Linked DNA regions of Homo sapiens: region 2 is linked to region 1. The links come from fine-mapping of genetic effects on gene expression. A gene starts in region 1. The other region holds a variant in brackets. All regions are shown on one strand. Distances are from middle to middle.

Region 1 (9,736 bases):
AAAACAACTAATCACTTCCCTTCTTTCTTACCATCAAAAGCTTATAGAATCAAAATCAGGGTGACAGTTTCTGAGTCCGCGCATTTTTCTAATTAGTCATCCACTACCACCGGCTCTGAAGCTGTGCTGAGAAGACAGTCTTACCCTCCCCCAACTCCATCCTCTCTTCCCACTCCGACGAGGGAGGGTGAGGTTAAATCAAGGATCTGAGGATTCGGTCCCCTTCATCCCTAAACTACTTTTCACATCCTGGAAACCCAGACTGCTTTGCAGTCCTCAGTTCCTCCTCTCTCTCCAGGTACCTCTTAACTTTTTCTTTCAAACATGGAGAAGTTGCCCCTAGGCAATTTAGAAAGAAATTTATGGGGCTTATTTAACATGATTGAGGTCCAGGAACATTAGTAAAAATATATAAATTAGACTAAATGTTGACTTGGATTCTTCATGAGAAAAACCCAGAAGAAAACCTACCAGGAGAGTCAACAAAGAAGAAAGGTCGTACATCACGCCTTGGCCTGAAGACACAATCTTTCCCATTTGGATGGCCTTACTCTCCCTTCACTTCCAACAGCGCCAGTCTGTTCATTCTCAGACATAAAATACAGGGCCTAACCTTACAAAAATCAGCAACCTGCATACCCAGCATGATTTGCCTCTTTTCCAGCATTGCTTGCATATTCTCCAAGGAATGCAAGGAAAAGTAAAGCTATGGCTGGACCCTCCCAGGCAATCTCTGAAGGAATTTTCCCTGGGGCTTAGACAGGCAACAAACTCTAAGAAGCAGCCTTCCCTAATTTCAAGGGGAAAATCCAGAGACAGTCAAGCCAAAGGTTTACAGTTCTACACTTCTAGCTTTTTCTTTTCTTTGTTTTTGTTTTGTTTTTTGTTTGTTTGTTTTTGTTTTGTTTTTTGAGACAGAGTCTTGCTCTGTCACCCAGGCTGGAGTGCAGTGGCGCAGTCTTGGCTCACTACAACCTCCACCTCCTGAGTTCAAGCGATTCTCCTTCCTCAGCCTCCCGAGTAGCTGAGATTACAGGCACCTGCCACCACGCACAGCTAATTTTTGTATTTTTAGTAGAGATGGGGTTTCACCATGTTGGCTAGGCTGGTCTCGAACTCCTGACCTCAGGTGATCTGCCCGTCTCCACCTCCCAAAGTGTTGGGATTACAGGCGTGAGCCATCGTGCCCAGCCTCACTTCTGGCTTTTGGTCTGACCACAGCCTACTGTGAAATTGCAGCATCCCCTGTAACTGGAGGAAGCAACTGGATCCTCCATCTCCTGATGTCTAGTTCACAGTTTGATTCCTGCTTGCCAGCAATGAGCTTGAGCCAGATGTTCTCATCAGGCACATGGGCTGAATGAAGCCTGCTTCTCATCAGACCAAAGCCCGAGCCAGCCCCTGGTTAGCCGACCCTGCTTCCAAGTAGTAAAAAAAGGAACCCACAGAGACACCATGCACATCCCTCAGCTATCTCTGCAAGGGGCTGTGACCCTCTGCAGAGACGCCGACTATCAGTGCACTGGTGTGGTGCAGGCCAGCAGGTTGCCAGTGAAGCCTGCCAGGCTCAGCACAGGCAGCAGAGCCCTGGATCTCAGGGCCAGCCTGTGTGGCCACTACCATGCTTCTCTCCGTGGCTCTCTTTGGAACTTAAGAGACAAGGCCAGGAAATTGGGGTAGTTCAGTAGGATACTTTTCTTTCCAGTTGTTGATGACAAAAGGGAGATGATGCCTTCTGACCAACTTTCTTAATTAGGCACTCACCAGGCTATGTCACTAAGCAGAATGGGACATAAAACTTGCCCTACCGTACGGGTATTTGGTGTCCAGCTTATTCTCTGCTGTCCTTCTCCAAGGCAACACGTCATCACTGCACCCATTTGGCATCCCATTGTACCCAATCCCGACAATCTTGTTTTCTGAATTCACGATGCAGGCGCCGACCTAGAAGGAAACATGCCCAAAGGCTTGGTGCCTGCAACTGGCTGGTCTGCCGCTGTGGAAGCAGGGAATAAAACCAGGGGGACTGCAGAACTCAAAACAGACGCATAGCTGCTGCAGGTGCTGAGAGCTGTCGGTCTCCTTGCCTGGTTTTTTGTGGCAGCACCCACAAGCCAAGGAAAGTGCACCCCCAGTCCCAGAAGGGGCACAAGAGGCAGTTAACAATGGCATGTGACAATTTTCTGTCTCACAGGAAGAACTAAGCTTGTAGAAACGCAGCACAAAAGGCAGACCGACCCTGCACTTTTAAGTTGACAGGCGTCCACTGAGTCTCCCCTTTCTGCTCATGTGCAGTAATCTCTTTGCCTGTGAGTATCTAAGCATTCTCCCGTGAAATTCATTTACCTGGGAATTTGGATCTTTGCTTCTCTGTGCTGATAAGAAGGCCACAGCCATAAAATACTCTGGCCATTCCAAATAGTCGTCCCGTTTCTTGCAGGAAACTTCACTCATGTTGGGTCTAGAAGAAAAACATGACAAAACAGAAGTTGAGAGAAGCATTTTAGTAAGTCTGTTTTCCAGTTCAACCCAACCACACTGAACCTTTAAATCTCTAAACATGGGCAACTTCAGCTACATTTATCAATCAGAAATCACAGCACATGGGCCCTAAACAGTCTCTGGTCTTAAGTAAAAACTTAAGAAATTTCCTATTTCAGAAGTTTGAATTTGAAACCTATAGCTTCACGTTCCCAAATATTTCATCTATTTACTGCTTTCTCATAGGATTTTTTATGCCAGCCTACAAATTGTTGTGTCCTTTACCTGTCTCCCTTACAAAGCGGAGTCAGCACAGGAGGAGGGTGGAAAAAAGAAATATTTATTGATCATCTATAGATTCCAGACATTGTTAAAGTTTATACACATCATGTCACTCAAGCCTTACTCCTAGCTAAGGTAGACAGTGCCATCCCATCTTACACAGACTCAGAGAACTTAGGTAACTTAACCTAAACCACACAGGATTATCATCCATGCCAGACGGATTCAAAGAAAACATCTGAAGCCTTCCCAACTCTGATATTAACCAGATAATTTTTCCCTTCCCTTTCTCCTCAATAATCCAGATGGGACAGAAGTTATCAACTCCGAGTAATGAATTACATGAGAAGAAACTATGAAAAACGTCAAGTGCTACTCCTAAAGCAAGGTTTTTGGAACGTAGTTTACCAGGGGCAAGCAGAGACTGTCTACGGCAGGGAGAGCCCACGAAGGGGGTCCTAGGACTTCAGGGGAGTGGTCGCTTTCAAAAGGAATGAAACAAGGGCAAGGAAGGAAGACAACACAAAAACGGGGTGGGTACCACGGAGAAATCTTGAGAAAGGCGAGGAATGTGGTCTAAAGGAAGGCAAGCATCTCCCAAAACTTCTGCTTCAGGCTCCACACTTTATTTAGGCATCTGCTACAGTGCAGGGCGGCAGTGCCTAAGACAAGGATGCAGTGGAGAGTGGGTGCTGGGAACCACGGTCACCCACTGATTACGCTGCCCCACATCTGAGAGGCCTGGCAACCCCCCTAACAGGAAAAGACAGGTGCTGAATCAGCCTGGTTTCCCACCTGGCTTTAGGGCCAGCATCCATCATCGCTGTGGGGTGCTGGAGAAGTACCTACTAAATAGGAGGGAGGGGGAGCCATGGGGGGCGAGGGAAGAGCAGGAGAGGGAAGGGTCCTGTTAATCCCCTGGGCGCCTTCTCCTGGTGTGGCTGAACGCCCACTAGAGCCCTGTGAGGACTGAGGCCCAGCTGTAGAAACAGAGAGAACTGGAGCTCGAATACAACGATTCAGGAAGACACATCCGGTCACCGTCCCAGGCACACCCCACGCCGCTCGCAACCCCGTCAGCTCTGATCCAGGGCCTACACCCGGCATTCCCAACCCACACACGGGCGCAGGAAGGGATGTGGTGTTCAGACGCCCAGCACCACCTCCCGGGGCACTCCAAGGGGCCCGGCCTCGCACAGGCCGCGGCGCCCGCCGAGAAATCGACCCTGGAGTGACTGCGGGGACCCCGAGCGCCCCCACCCCGCCCGCATTCTCCGATCTAAAGGCTGAGCGCGGCCGAGGCGCCCCCAGCGTCCGCGGCCCCAGGCCCCCGCCCGGCAGCCAGCGCCCCGCGCCACGCGCTCGGGACGGTGCCACGCGGCGGTGGCTAGGGGCGCGCGGGCCGCGTACCCGCACGGCTGGCCCCCGCCCACCATCCGGTGCCGGCTCCGCGCGCAGGCCGGTGCTCGTCCCCGCCGCCGCCGTGCTCAGGGAAGGAAGTCGGGGGAGGAGGCGGGGCCGCCGCGGGGCCGGAAGGGGGCAGCGGCCCGGGCGCCGCGCGTTCGCAGGACGGCGGCTGGCCCCGGGGGCCCGAAGCCCTGAGGGGAGGGAGGGAGGGACGGCGGGGGCGGGTCGCACGCCGCAAAGGCGCTGCTCCGCGTCGCCGTACGCCTCCCGGTCCCCGTGACGCAGCCCGCGGTCCGGCCGGCGGTGTTCAGAGCCCGAGCACAAACTACTTCCCGGGTGCCAGACCGCCCCGAGGTCGCCCCGCTGCCCGGGTCACGCGTGGCGCTGGGTGGCCGCGAGTTGGGCGCTCCCGGGCCTGACTGCACGACCGTCGGGGGCTGCTTGGTTTGGTGGTGGTGGCGGTGGTGAGGTTTTCCCCACCATCCGTGTTCCATCAACTGCTTAGAGACACGGCTATGGAGATTGTGATTAAAAGACGACCCCAAGAATCTAGTGCCGTGAAACTGGCGGGGCGGGAGGTGGGGAGACCTGGTTTGGGTCTCTGGAGTGAGCCCGCTGTGTCGCAGCGTCCCCGTGGGGACCCTTGGCCGGTGGCTGGGTCACAGTTTCACACACTGGATGGGGCAGGGAACTGGGTCCGGCGGGGGCGCTGTGCCTCGAGGCTCAGTGCCTCGAAGCTAGATTTGCATTTGGCTGCGCCTGACAGGCTTTCAGTTTCTGCTCAAATTGTGCGGAAGGGCCTGAGGTGTTTGCTAAAGCCTGCCGCGCCCTGCTCGACCCGTATCACCGCACAGGCACCCCACCTGCATGTTACCTCCTGGTAATGCTCGCCCACTTATATAGTGCACATTTTGTTGCAGTTGTTTCAAAGATGAGAAAAACAGGGCAATAGGAAAGACCATCAGTGACATTTCTGGAGTCGTATGCCCCAAGCAACTTAATCTGGTTTTCATGAACTTCGTTACCCTGTGCAGACGTCTAGCCCCTTACAGTGGTTCTAGCACAGAGAATGACAGAAGAACCCCTTTCTGTTTCATTCATGGGACTTGAGGGGACTGTCAGCACTCCATAAATAACAGCTACTGTAATAATCGCCAGTTCTGATCTGCACATCCCAGATTTGAACTGCTATTCCAAACAAAAGCTTGTTAACTATATTAATTTAGCCTAACGGAGGAAGAATGATGAGAGTAAACAGTTGGTTCTATCTAATTTCTCACTACAGCAGACACATCATTCTTCATCTCATGGTCCAGCTTGTAGATTCAATAATTAAATTATGTACTGCTCTTGGTGGATGCCGGGAAAGCAAAAGGGAGAAATACTTCATCGTTAACTATAGATTTTTTTTTTTTTTTTTTTGCCTTGATAAGACTCAGGCTTGAAAGAGCCACATAGATTAAGATGATGATTTTTAATTTCAAGTTGACTTTACATGGCTGTCTTGTTGCCGCTAAAATGTGTCATATATCCCGAGCCCCTGGTTTCCCTCCTCCTCCCAAATCCACCGCTTGGTCTTTGTCACACTCATCTACAGTCTTTGGGTCTTCATAGATCCATTTCTCTTCTTACCAACCTACAACCCATACATCACCAATTGCTGCTGCTCCTTCAACCACAACATCATTAAGCTTTCTTCCTTCCTCTGCTCGGTAAAGACTGTCATACATAATTTAGTTACTTCTCATCACTCTCCATTTTGGTCAACTCACACACTCCCCTCTGCCATAAATTCAAGCTCCTGCTTGCTGAAAACACATTACCCTGAATGTTCCCGCATTTCACTGAAAGTCCCTCATCTTAAAGATGACATCATTCATAATACAGGAAACCCTCCTGGTTCAGAGTTTCACAACTTGAGGTTTCAAATATTGTACACCAATAGTGAAGCCACGCGGCCAAAGGGGGGAGAAATATATTCCTTGGTATGTCTTTCTCATTAACACCTTGTAACTCCAAGTGTGACTGTAGGTGTTAAATCTCTCTTGCTAATACCTTGTATTTGGGCTTATAATTGAGGATCTTTCTCCACCTACTACAGATACAGAGGTTAGGTATGTGTTCAGCCCTATCTAGATTGGCCTTCCTTGAGGGCCTCACACAGGTTGAACCCAATCAGCACATTCCTAAGGACTACTGTCTTGGCCCTTTTGTTTATGGGGTTTCGTGCTATCTATGTCTAGTCTAGAGCATAACCTGGAATATATTAATATTTCAGTGTGCCTTAGGTAGGGGATCCCGATTAAAAACAGAAGTCAAGGTAAGACTCTTCCAGGGCTGCCTCAGAAGAGGGGTTGATGGCATTTGCAAATGTCTGCCGTACCGAGATACTACCTGCCCCTCCTTCCACCTCCTCTGCCTGCCAAGGTAAGGATGAGACCTGTGACTGGGGAAACAGAGGCAAGGAGTCAGGAAGGTGGCCAATCTGTCCATCAAGTTTGTCATGAGAGAAAGAGCACCGGCCTTGGAGTCAGACCAGACTTTGAACCCTACTCCCACTTCTTACAACCCGAGTAACCTTGAGAAGCTACTTCCATTCTTGGAGTCTCTGTAAAATCAACAATATTCATTTTTTATTAATTCCCTGCTATGTGCTAAGTGCTGTAAATACCATGATGGATACTATAAGCCAGTTCTTGCCCTCACATTCCCCTCTCCGCAAATAAACACAGAAAAAAATGAACCTTATTGCTGGCCCAGTGAACATAGTAAATGTTGTTATAAACTGCCTGTTGTTCTTAATTTGGTGGTTGTCAGTCAGGACCAAAAACTCCTTTGCATAACAACTGCACTTAGAGGCAAAGTGCCACTTTGACTGGTTTTCAAAGGAATAATTGTTTATGTTTCCATGCTAAAGTGCAAACTAGAGAAAACTCTTTTTAAATCTTAAGTAAGGGATGACTGTAAGTCTGCTAAACCACAAAAAAGTCACAATGAAAATTCTAGAAAAAAATAAATATGTGGTCTTATCAATACAGTACAGGTTGAGCATCCCTAACCTGAAAATTCAAAATCCAAAATGCTCTAAGATCTGAAACTTTTTGAGTGCTGACACTCCCACAAGTGGGAAATTCACACCTGACCTCATGTGATAGGTGCACAAAATTATGAAAAATATCCTGTCAAACTACTTCCAGGCTATGTATGTAAGGTGTATATTAAACATAAATATATATTGTGTTTAGATTTGGGTCCCATCCCCAGGACACCTCATTACATATATGCACATATTCCCAAATCTGAAAAAATCCAAAACCTGAAACACTTCTGGTCCTAAGCATTTTGGAGAAGGGATATTCAACCTGTATATACATTTTCGTATGTATGTTAGAGCATGAGGTCAGTTGTTTGTGTTCCATGAAGGGCATACAGACTGCAAATTGACATGACAGAGCACTCCTATCAGAAAAAAAATCAGGATCCCTAAACAGCGTTTTTGTTATGAGTTGAAGCCACCAATTACTTTGTCATTATACATCTTCAAAATTACAATGAAGGGCCGGGTTTGTTGTAATGAACTCACTCCTGTAATCCCAGCAAAGTGGCAGGCCAAGGTGGGAGGATCGCTTGAGCCCAGGAATTTGAGACCAGCCTGGGCTATGCAAGACCCAGTCTCTGCAAAAAAAAAAAAAAAAAAAAGTTTTAAATGAGCCAAGCATGGTGGTGCATGCCTGTAGTCCCAGCTGCTCAGGAGGCTGAGGAGGGAAGATTGCTCGAGCCTAGAAGGTTGAGGCTGTAGTGAGCTGTGACTGCACCACTGCACTCCAGCTTGAGTGACAGAGGGAGACCCCATCTCAAAAAAAAAAAAATCTTTTTTTTCAATGAAGATCAATAAGGAAATGTTAACATGGCATATGCACAAAGCTGGGTGTTTTGCCGTTTTTTATTAATAAATATTTGTTGACTAAATAAATGAGTTAATAGAAAATCATTGTTCTATGCCAAATTGTTTGGAGCATCTAACTCATAGAGAGAAGTCTTTGTCTGTGAACTCTGGTTCTACTTCCCTATCCGCCTCCTTTTTCTCCTTGCAATTCATAGACCTGGAGAGACATTTGATAAGTGAGACATTGGGGCTGGTGGGTCAGGGAAACAAGAGTGAACAGTATCATTTTAAGGAGGCATGGATCTCAGTCCTAGGATTTGGGGCTTGGCCTGAAAATGACCATCTCTCGTACAGCAGAGCTGAAGGCGGAGGGGAAGGCTGTCTCCTCTTTCCTGGTGTGATGCCTCTCCCCATGACTTCTTTGCTTCTACAGAGCTGAACTTGTAGCCTCTTTCATACACAACTGGTTGAAGTGGATGGAAATTACATGTCTTATTGCTTCTTAAAAGAAAAAAAAACATATTAAATCTAAAAGAAATGGGCAATTTTCTCGTACCACTTTCTATTTCTGTGTAAGTTACCAAGTGCCAATCATTCTTACTTTTTAAAATTCACATTTGTCAAGCAGCATGTAAGCTTTCAGTGTTGTACAAGAAAAGATAATGCTTCATGTGGAACAGTCACTTACGCTATTCTGTGAAAGTGCCTAACCTGAAGAGAATGTATCAGATTGTTGGCTTTATAGAAATGTTAATGATTTCATTAAATTACACCCTCTACGCTGGGGTCACCAAGGAACCTCCTAAAGGGTAATCAACAAGGTATTACGGTTCTGGATATAGAATTCTTTATTGACATCAGAGTCACCACTCATTTTGCAGTGTGTATTTTAACTGGTGTAGCAAGGTGAATGCCTAAGAACCATTGTAAATGAAAGTCCCTGTGAAATTGTAGTTGGGAGCTAATGGCCATCATAACCTGCCTGACGTGTTGCGCCTTCCCTCAGCTAACTGGAAAGCTCACTGGGTGTGAACCTCTGAAAGGAGAAGGCGCGAATCAAATTAACATTTTAGTATTGTGGCACACCATGTATGTGTATATTGAAGATAACACCTGTGATCCTACCACAACAACAATCTGTTGTTAATGCCATGAGGGAAAAAGTCATCTTCCACAGTCAGGAGCAAACAAAATAAGGGAGGAACCCTATCCTATGTGAATGACTGTTGACACTGTTCACAGTAAGCAATTCAAAGCTTTGATTCAAGAGCTGACAGAGAGCAACAAGGCAGTACCGAGGCCAGAGTTCTCCAAAGGCCCCATTTCTGATGAACCTCTGTCTGCTGCAGTGTTTGATAGACAACTTGAAGTGATACAAGGTAGGGAGCTCTCAGCCATGAAGCATGATCCTAGTAATGCTATCTTCAAATTAGCCCTGGATTGAGTTAAATATCAACCAAAGGGAGTGGAACGGCCCTCATGAAATCATCCCTAAGAGAATGAGAGAGATCTAATAGTGTGGTGGTTACAGTAACCACTAACCTGCAAGAAAAATCGATATCTACACTGTGTTAGAATCACACCAAGGGCTCCTGGAGCCGAGCCATTTCAGTGAAGAATAAACCAGGATTCATTAGAGTAGAAAGTCAGAATGTGGTAGGAGGTCAAACATAAATACAC
Region 2 (9,736 bases), 44 kb before region 1:
CCTACAGCCTCTCTGAACCTTTTTGGGACTGGCCCTGGTCAGCTGTCCTTTGATCTCCATATTCATACTTTATTTGGAAATAAAGCTTTGTTATCATATGGAATCCAGAGTCTTCACCCTGTCTGTGAAGCAAGTACGGGTTTATTTATTTAGGGCTGGGAGACATCTCTGATTTCATTTGGAAGCTGTCACTTTGCTTTTCCTTTGCCCTATGAGAGACTGGGTTGCTAGAAGGAGTGAAGATGGTCTATTGTGTTCCTTTTCATCATTATCTCATTTTGTTGTTATTTTCTATGTTTCTCTCTTTAAGAAATCATAACAGTTTTATTAAGATATAGCTCACATACCATACAATTCACCTATTTGAAGCATATAATTCAATGCTTTTAATATATTCACAGAATGGTGCAACCATCACCACCATGAATTTTGGAACAGTTTTGTCACCCCAAAAAGAAATTTCATATGCATTAGCATTTACTGCCCATCTCCTCCCAATTTACCCCCTCACACTCCCACCTCCAGGCAGCCACTAACTTATTTCTGAGTCTATGGATTTGCCTATTTGGGACACTTCATATAAATGAAATCATACAACGCATGGTCTTTTGTAACTGGATTCTTTCACTTAGCATGATGTTAAATATACATAGTATCATCTGTATCAGTACTTCATTCTTTGTATTGCCAAACAATATTGTATGGATATAAGTTTTACTTATCAGTTGATGGGCATCTGGGTATCCACCTGCTGGCTGTTACATACAATGCTGCCGTGAACGTTCATGCGCAAGCTTTTGTGTGGCCACATGTTTTCATTTCTCTTGGATATAGACCTAAGACTGGAATTGCTGGGCTATTTCCTATATTTTAAGGAATTATGTTACTCTGGAATCCTGTAGGGGCCTTTTTACCCATGGCTCATTTATTTCTTCTCAGGCCTTTATTAAACAAGTATCTAGAGGTGTTTAGAAGGTTATAAATTAGCCACAGTGACAAATAAACCCCAACATTTCAATGGAGCCACATACTCAAAGTTTGTTTCTCACTCACATCTCAGTCCAATGAGGGTGTTCCTGGTTGGCACGCAGCTTTCCCTCTGTGGTAATTCCGGGTCCAGGGACATCTGCTTCTAGAAAACCCTGGCCCAGCTTTTTCCATTGGTAGGAACGTGGCCCCAAGCCAGTGCAAGTGGGGCTGGGAAACACTGCCTCTGGAGGGGCAGGTGCTCCCAGAAGCAACCTCATGGCATGAGAGAGGAAGCACAGATGTTGGTGGTCAGCTAGCTGACTGCCACTCCAAGGTCCAGGAAGCCAGAGGGCACGGGGTTACAGGGGATTTGAGCCAGGATCCCAGCAAGGTCAGAAGATATTTCTGTCTCCCTCCTATTTCCTCTTTTTCTTAGAAAGGAGTTATCCTTGTGTTCAAGGAAAGGCTGAATATGAGCAGGAACTGTTAAATATGGGAAGCACTGACATTTGGAGAAGACTGCCATAGATTTTTGCATACCTGGTATTTATTTAGATGGTCTTCTGCTGGAAACAGTACGGACCCCTCCCTCTTCTTGGAAGGACTATCCATCAAGGTACCCCCTGCCTCTGGCCACAGGATGGACACTTGACCCACAGTAGGCCAGACTCGCCCCTCTCTCTGGAATTTGAACCTTAAGCAATGTGACACAAAAACAGTCTCATTCTGGGGGTGGGGTCCTGAGAAGATACCATCCATTCCTTTCTGCTTCTTGGATCCCAAATGATGCTGCCTCAGTGTTTCTGGAGCCTGACACCTTAGCTTTGACTCTGTGGGTTGCCCCATGAGCTTACAATAAAGGTCTGGTTAATTAAGCCGGAGTTGGTCATTCCAACATCTCTCTCAACCTTCTACATTCAAGTCCTGAGGATGTCACATCCTGTACAGCTTGAATCTGTCTTCTTTCTAACACAACCTCCAATGCTACAATTCAGGTTCTTTCTATTGTTTGCCTGGACTTCACAAGACCGGCTAACTACTACCTTCATGTCCCCATGGAAACTTTTCTAAAATGCAAATACTGGTTTGAAAAATTACAATACCACCCTTGGAGCAGCGAAATTATGCACCCATATACTGTTGGTGGAGTTATAATTTTTATAACCTTTTGGAAAGGCAATTTGGCCATATGTATCAAGAGCCATTAAAAAAAATACAGCCTTTGACCCAACATTTTCACTCGCAAGAATTTTTTTCCTGAAGAAGCAATTAGACATACATATAAAGGTTTATGTCTGAAATGTTCTCTGAACCATGCATTCATTCAACAAATATGGAATGCCTAGTATATGCCAGGTGCTATTATTATTACTTAAAATCACAAAATACTGGGGGAGTAAAAGAACTGTCCAGTTAGAGGGAATTGATTAAATGAACTTAGTTGTGGTTGGATGATAGAATACGATATAGTTACTAAAGACCATGTTTTTAGGAGAATATTTAATGACATGGAGAAATTCACATTAAGAGAAAAAAGCCAGTTTCAAAAAAGTATATAATCTGAATGTTGAAGGAAGAAATACACATACACCAAAATATTAATAGTGACTAACTCTAGGAATGAGATTTGAGTGATTTTTACTTTTTGCCCACGTTTCCATATATTTCTAACATTTAATAATAAAGAGAAAAATTATTTTTAAAAAATTACTTAAAAAGCAATCAGGAGGCCAGGCGCAGTGGCTCACGCTTGTAATCCCAGCACTTTGGGAGGTTGAGGTGGGTGGATCACGAGGTCAGGAGTTTGAGACCAGCCTGACTAACATGGTGAAACTCCGTCTCTACTAAAAATACAAAAATTAGCCGGGCATGGTGGCATGCACCTGTAATCCCAGCTACTCGGGAAGCTTGAATCCAGGAGGCGGAGGTTGCAGTGAGCCAAGATCGCACCACTGCACTCCAGCCTCGGCGACAGAGTGAGACTCTGTCTCAAAAAAACAAAACAAAACAAAACAAAAAAAAAACGCAATCAAGAAATATGATCATGACTCTACATGAAACCCATCAATAATTCTTCATTTGCAGAATAAAGTATAAACTGCCCCAGCATCAGCTCCCCGACATCTCCCACCTCCCCACCACTTCCCCAGTTCAGCTCGGGAAGCAGCCACGTCCACCAGCATCTCAGATCTTTCATACCTCAGGGCCCTTAGCCACGCGGTAGGCCCCCTTCCTGCGACTGCCCCCTCCGTCTTTGCTCATTCAACAAATATTTATTATTCTGAGCTCTGTTCTGAGCACTAAGGATGCCAGTCAACATAATAGACAAAGTCCCTGGCTTTGCCTCCACTTGTTGCGGATTTCATGTCCCAGCAGAGGAAGACGGATAACAAACATATACACAAGTAGAGATGAGTTGTGTTAGTTTCCTATTTCTGCTATAACACATTACCACAGATCTAGTGGCCTAAAACATCACAAATTCATTCTGTCCCAGTTCTTGACGTCAGAAGCCCAAACAAGTCTTGCAGGGCTGAAATGACGGTGTGAGCAGGGCTGGTTCCCTCTGGAGGCTCCAGGGGAGAATCTGTCTCCTTGACTTTCTCAGGTCTCGGTGGCCCCTTCCTCCATCTGCAAAGCAGCTCCGCAGTGTAGCTCTCTGCCTCTGGCCTCCTGCCTCTCTCTTGTAAGGGCTCTTGTGATTATGTCAGGCCTACCTGAATGATCCAAGATAATTTTCCTGAAATCTCAAGATCCTTAACTTAATCATGTCTGCAAAGTCCATTTTGCCACATAAGGTAATACATTCACATGTTCTAAGGATTGGAACATGGACATACTTTAAGGGCCACGATTCAGCCTACCCCGTGTGGGATGTCATATATGTTGAGTGCTTTGGCACAAGGGAAGTGAGTTTGCTCTTCATGTGAGGGAGTCAGAAAAGGCCTCACTGATAAAGAGACATCAGAGTGTGGAGCCTACCTCCTTTGACACTCCTGTCATTGTGCTTGCAAAAGTATTCATTTTCCTAATCCCAGCACTTTGGGAGGCTGAGGTGGGTGGATCACTTGAGGTCAGGAGTTCAAGACTAGCCTGGCCAACAAAGTGAAACCCTGTCTCTACTAAAAACAATCATGTCACTTGCTTACTAGGATTAATTTGGGAATCCAGTAAGGATACAAATATGGTAAACTTCTAGCGCTTGTCTTATTGCAGGAACTCCATCAATGACAGACAGTTGTGCTGTGATATTGGGGGTGAAGAAGAGTTGATAGAAAAGAAGTTTTGAGAATTTGTTCCTAGTCACTTAAAATGAAGCTGGGGTCAGAGCTGAAGGCCTACTCGATGTCAGCACTACCCTCCCCAGCCTGGGCCCTCGGTGCCTTTTTGGCAGGGACCTGGTCTTCCTCATGTCGTATCTTCCACAGGGCCTAGGACATATTTGCTTAGCTCAGCAAATATGTATTGAGCGCCTGCTGTGTACCAGGAACTGCGCTAGAAGCCAAGGATACATGAAGAAACAAAACAGAAGCGGCCGGACTCTGAGGCCAGTAAGTCTCATGGGGCAAAAAGGGGCCTGTATCTCGGCCGTGTGGCGACGTTATTTGCCTCAAAAAACGCCTAGGCCGGAACCCCTGCATTTCAGGCTCCTGTGGAATTTTGAGAGAAGACAGTACTTTCTTAAGCTGTTCCGTATTTTCCATGCAGGCTTCCATTGACAGAAATCCCACTTTGCATCTGTGAAATTTGCTAACGCACGATTCTGCTCTAGTGCATCGTGAGGCAGTTTATGACATCCGTGCAGCTCTGGTAAAGAGCATGCTTACAACGAGGGGGAAAAGCACCGCCGCAGGAGCAGAGCAGTGGACTCTCAGGGAATTTCCATTTTCTCCTGTCTTAGCGCTGTTAACCATCACGCTTGGCGTTGCCTGACTTCGACATGCGATCACGGCTGCTAGTTCTGAGAGAATGTGAGTTTCCTGGTGAAACTCTCTCTCAACTCTAAGATGGACCTTGACGGAATGCCAAATGTCTCTGGCCTTCCAACATGATAAAGGGCCTCCACGATGCTTTCTGCTTTTCTCCCTCTGCAAAGGTGGCAGTGAGGAGCTTTCTCTGGTGGCTGTTGCATGGACCCTGTCCCCTTGGATGGCTGTGCCTGCAGATTGTCAGGCCGTTGTCTCTGCTTCCCCAGCCCGCAGAAAGGTCACCGACAGGGCTGTGGCACATGCAACTTGGCCCTCACCGTGGAGGAGATGGGGCAGCTTCTGTACAGGTTCTGATCAGGTGGCCACGGCAATGACTGGGGATGCCAGGGACACACTGGACTGTCCCGAGCACGGCGACTTCCCTGGTTTTGCTACCTCTCTTCCACCTGCACTGCACTCCGGGGCTCTGATTTTCACCTTGCTCGCTGACCCCCGCCTCCTGTTTCATGGGTCTTCTTTTCCTGCCATCAGCATCTTTTCTCTGAGACGCCGCTTGGATTTTCTTTCCTGCCTGTTTGTCCTAGACACCGGCAGGAGTTCAAGAATGATGTGACACAGTGATGTGGCCATGGGGTCTGTGCAGACTGACCTGGCCTGTTTCAAAATTTAAATTTTGTTTTAAGTCATAAAAGGGCTACAAAAGCCTTACACTAAATAAGAAAAACTATCCCATCCGGGGGCCTAATCCCTGCCCC[G/A]TTCTGCTCGGCTTGCCTCCCTCATTATACTTGTATAATACAGTATGGTTTCTATCGCGTATTTCCTTCCTGTTTTTACACTTATTCTTGCTTCACTGACTTTATTATCGGCAGAATTTTGCAGCATTTTTTTTACACAGCCATAAATACTCTTCAATTCAACAAATGCATACAAATGGTTTCCATTAGAATTTTAATCTACTCTCAAAATGAAAGAAAAGCTTAATATAAATCTTTTTAAATTACCAGAACATAAATTCACACAGGGACAGTTCCTCCTAGGCCACGCACAAGGGGTCGCATCCTGCCGTCCTCCCTCAGAAATTAATTGAGCTCTCTTGCCGCCGTAAACGAACAGTGCATCTGGAAAGATCGTATCTGTCAAGATTGCAGATTGGTTTCCCTCAGACTTTGTAAAAGTCACAGCTTACAATACGTTCATTATACCGATGAGAATGGCTGTCCTCCCAACTGGAAAGAAATAGGTGTTTTGTTCTGTTGGACCAAGATTTACAGAAAGCAATTTTCCTCCATGCAGGAGATATGACAAACCTGCTGGAAAAAAATGTCATTTCACAACTTCTTTCATTTCATCACCTTTTTTTACTGCTAGATGTAGATTCTCTCCCCTGTGCGAACGGGCTGTAGTGACATTTAATGGCTAAGTGAGGGAGTCACCAATGAGTGGAGGCACCTTTCTGAGGGGCTAAGGTAAGAGGGTTTCCATGCCTCTCCCTCTCCCCCTATGTCCGGGGCTGTCTGGAAGCGTCCCAGCATCTGCCGGAGTGAGGGAGGGACGCGGTGAGTCCCTTGAGCCCCTCAGCCAACTTGAACTTAGGAACTCATGTGAATCTTGTGTCTCTCTCTTGTAAGCAGCTGAAGTTGCCTCAGTTTTCCTGTTGTTTGCTGAGCCCAAGAACCCCAGCGTGCCCACTCTGTCCTTGGCTGACAGCAGCACGCTGTCTCAGGAGGACGGCTGAAGGGCAGAGTTTGGGCTTAGATGTTTTTTTTCCATTTCCTCATGTCATAACCTAATGCTGTTCTAGCAGAGCTTCTGCATATTAAATTGCCTTTTAGCCACTGGGAAGGGGGTGGCGTGATCTATGGAGAAAAGGACCCTCATGTAAATGTATGATGGTGACACAACCCCACAGAGGAGAAAGGGCAAGACTAACCCGGAGACCAGGGGTCAGCAAACCCCGGGAAACGTCACTCTTTACAGCCACTTCTCTCTCCTTGAGTCAAGAGCCACTGTTCCGAGCTTTCCGTCACAGCAGCTCATGGCAGCCCTATCACCGCCTGTTCTCTGGGCTGGGGCTGGTGAGAAGGCCGAGGAAGTCTGAGGCAGGGTGTGTGGGAGGGCTTTTGGTTCCAAGAGCTTCTCTGAGCTCTGTGTACCAGCGAGAAAGCAGGCAGCGAAGGCAAGATCAAACCTTGCTCCTGCCAAGCGGGAGAGGCTGGCTTCGGGTGGTAATTTGTGCTGCAGGTGAGGCTCCCTACCTGGGCGGCCACTTAGCTGCACCAGGCAGGGAGGGCAGGGCCACCAGAAGGCCTGGTGGGCATTGTTTCCATGGGCTGGAAAGATTTTTGCAAATCTTTCTGCAAATGATGATCTCTATCCACATAAAGTGGCATAATAGCCTCTTTGCTTTACCGAGTGCTGCTGGCTGTTCAAGTGCTTATTTCTTGATTCTTGGCCCATTTGCTTTCCATTAGCAGTAATCCCAAGCCTGCAAAACTCCAATTACTAAGTGATAATAGAAATGCAGCTCTGCCTCGGAGTCTCTGGAGCTCAGGGTCCAGAGTGGGCCAGGGTTCCACGCACAGCCACATTGCAATCATATTTATGACATGTGAGCAAGACATCTGGCCGGTCCCTGGGTTAAAGACCCAGGGGAGCCGAGTGGGCATTCTCAGGGGGTGTCTGCACCGCAGATCCCAGGGAGCTGGTGGAAACAGGACAGGTGTTCCCAAGACAGTCCAGGATGCTCAGACAGCGTAGGAGGAATGGAGGCTACAATGGACGGAGCTGAAGGAATGTGTGCTGCTCCTTTGAATTCTGGGGTTGGAGGAAAGGTGTGCTAGGGACTGAGCTGTGTCCCTCTCCCAAATTCATATGTCAAAACTTTAACCCTCCATGTGAGGGTTTTTGGAGGTAGGGCCTTTATAGGTAATTAGGTTTGGATGCAGTCATGAGGGTATCGCCCTTACGATGGGATTAGTAGCTTTCTAAGAGACCAGAGCCGTTGCTCCCGGCCCCACTCCCTGCCAGGTGAGCCCACAGTGAGAAGGCGGCCGTCCACAAGCCAGGAAGAGAGCCCTCACCAGAACCCGGCCATGCCAGCACCTGATCTCAGACTTCCCAGCCTCCAGAACAGTGAGAAGTAAAGGCTTATTGTTTAAGCCGCCCAGTCCCTTGTATTTAGTTATGGGCAGCTGAGCAGACTGCAACAGGATGACAGGAGAGAGAATGATTGTAGATTCAGAGTGAGGTGGGGCTCAAAGTCAGAACTTCAGAACTGAGCCCAAAATGATCAGAAAATTCACCCCCTAGGTGGCTGCTGGTGAAAATTCACTACTCTAGGGGCCAGGGCAGCTGTTTTGTATGTGTGTGTGTGTGGTAAGAAAACAAAAAAACAAAACAAAACAAAAACAACCACACACATAATAAGGCCAGGCACGGTGGCTCACGTCTGCAATCCCAGCACTTTGAGAGGCCGAGGCGGGTGGATCACTTGAGGTCAGGATTTCCAGACCAGCCTGGCCAACATGATGAAACCCTGTCTCTACTAAAAATACAATTAGCCGGACATGTGGCGTGAGGCTGTAGTCCCAGCTACTCAGGAGGCTGAGGCAGGAGAATGGCTTGAACCTAGGAGGTGGAGGCTGCAGTGAGCTGAGATCGTGCCATTGCACTCCAGCCTGGGCGACAGAGAGAGATTCCATCTCAAAAAAACAAAACAAAACAAAACAAAAAAAACACATAACATAAAATTTACCATCTTAACCATTTCTAAGTGTACAGTTAAGCAGTGTTAACTATATGCACACTGCTTTGCAATCAACCTCCGGAACTTTTCATCTCACAAAACTGAAAGTCTGTATCTGTTAAACAACTCCCATTTTCCCCTCTCCCAGGCCCCGCACCCACCATCCTACTTTCTGTCTCTATGTATTTGACACTCACATCATCTCGCGCAGGTGGGATCATCTGGTATTTGTCCTTTTGTGACTGTCTCCTTTCACTTAGCTCACTGTCCAAAGTTCGTCCATGCAGTAGCATGTGTTGGATGGACTTTCCTTCCTTTTCAAGGCTGAGTAAGATTCCACTGTGTGTTTACATTTTCTTTATCCATTCATCCACCGAGGAACACCTGGGCGACGTCCCCCTCCTGGCTGCTGTGAATAATGCTGCTCTGAGCATGAGTGTGGAGCGTCTGTTTACAAAGGAGATGGTCAGACAGTACAACAGCACTCAGGTCAGTCCAGCTGCCCCCTCATCCCACCAGCTCCTTCCCAAAAGATTGACCACTGGACTTTTTCTCATAGGAAGCACTGCCCTCCGCACCAAGCTCCCTTCACATCCTGATCAGCGCTGCTCTCGGCTGCTGCTTCTTGCTTCAAGCCCCCAGGAATATCTCCCTTTTTTTTAATTCCATTTCTCTCTCAACCTTAAAACTATCCACCACCCTTAGTCTGTTCCATTATCAAGCCCTTCTGCTGACTTTCACCAAGCACTGTCATTTCTTCTTCCACATTTTCTTTCAAATTCTCCAAGATCCTCTTTTAAATATACTAGCAAGGCAGACTCGCCTGACTTTTCCCTAGTTCACACCTAGGGACAAACAGATCCAAAAAAGTCAATAGAATTTGTAGGGGATCCTGATAAGGACTTGGCTGATTTTTGTTGCCTGGTTTAGACCGCTGCAGTTTTGTGCCCCTCAGAAATCTCATAATTTATGACTGCTGCCAGCGGGCAAAAATGTGGAGCGTTTGTCCTCAAACAGAGTCTGTTGTAAAAGTGTTCTTTCTAACGGTAAAGAGCAGCAAAGAAAACAGGCTGCTGTGTTCTTCCTCTCTGAT

Evidence for each region.
Region 2: its variant is fine-mapped to the expression of DCTD in whole blood (TOPMed, PIP above 0.99).

What each region holds. Positions count from the first base shown.
Region 1 is chr4:182,913,115-182,922,850 of GRCh38, forward strand. It overlaps DCTD (dCMP deaminase), which reads right to left and starts at 4,272. Exons shown (of 6, transcript NM_001921.3): 1 at 4,197-4,272; 2 at 2,347-2,461; 3 at 1,809-1,944. The coding sequence starts at 2,454. RefSeq lists a silencer at 3,904-4,613 and an enhancer at 6,187-6,236.
Region 2 is chr4:182,868,671-182,878,406 of GRCh38, forward strand. It overlaps LOC105377576 (a long non-coding RNA gene), which reads right to left. Exons shown (of 3, transcript XR_007058403.1): 2 at 8,841-9,090; 3 at 2,453-6,208. Among named protein-coding and RNA genes, the nearest start is that of DCTD, 44 kb to the right of the region's middle. The variant G/A (reference allele first, on the strand shown) is at 5,654.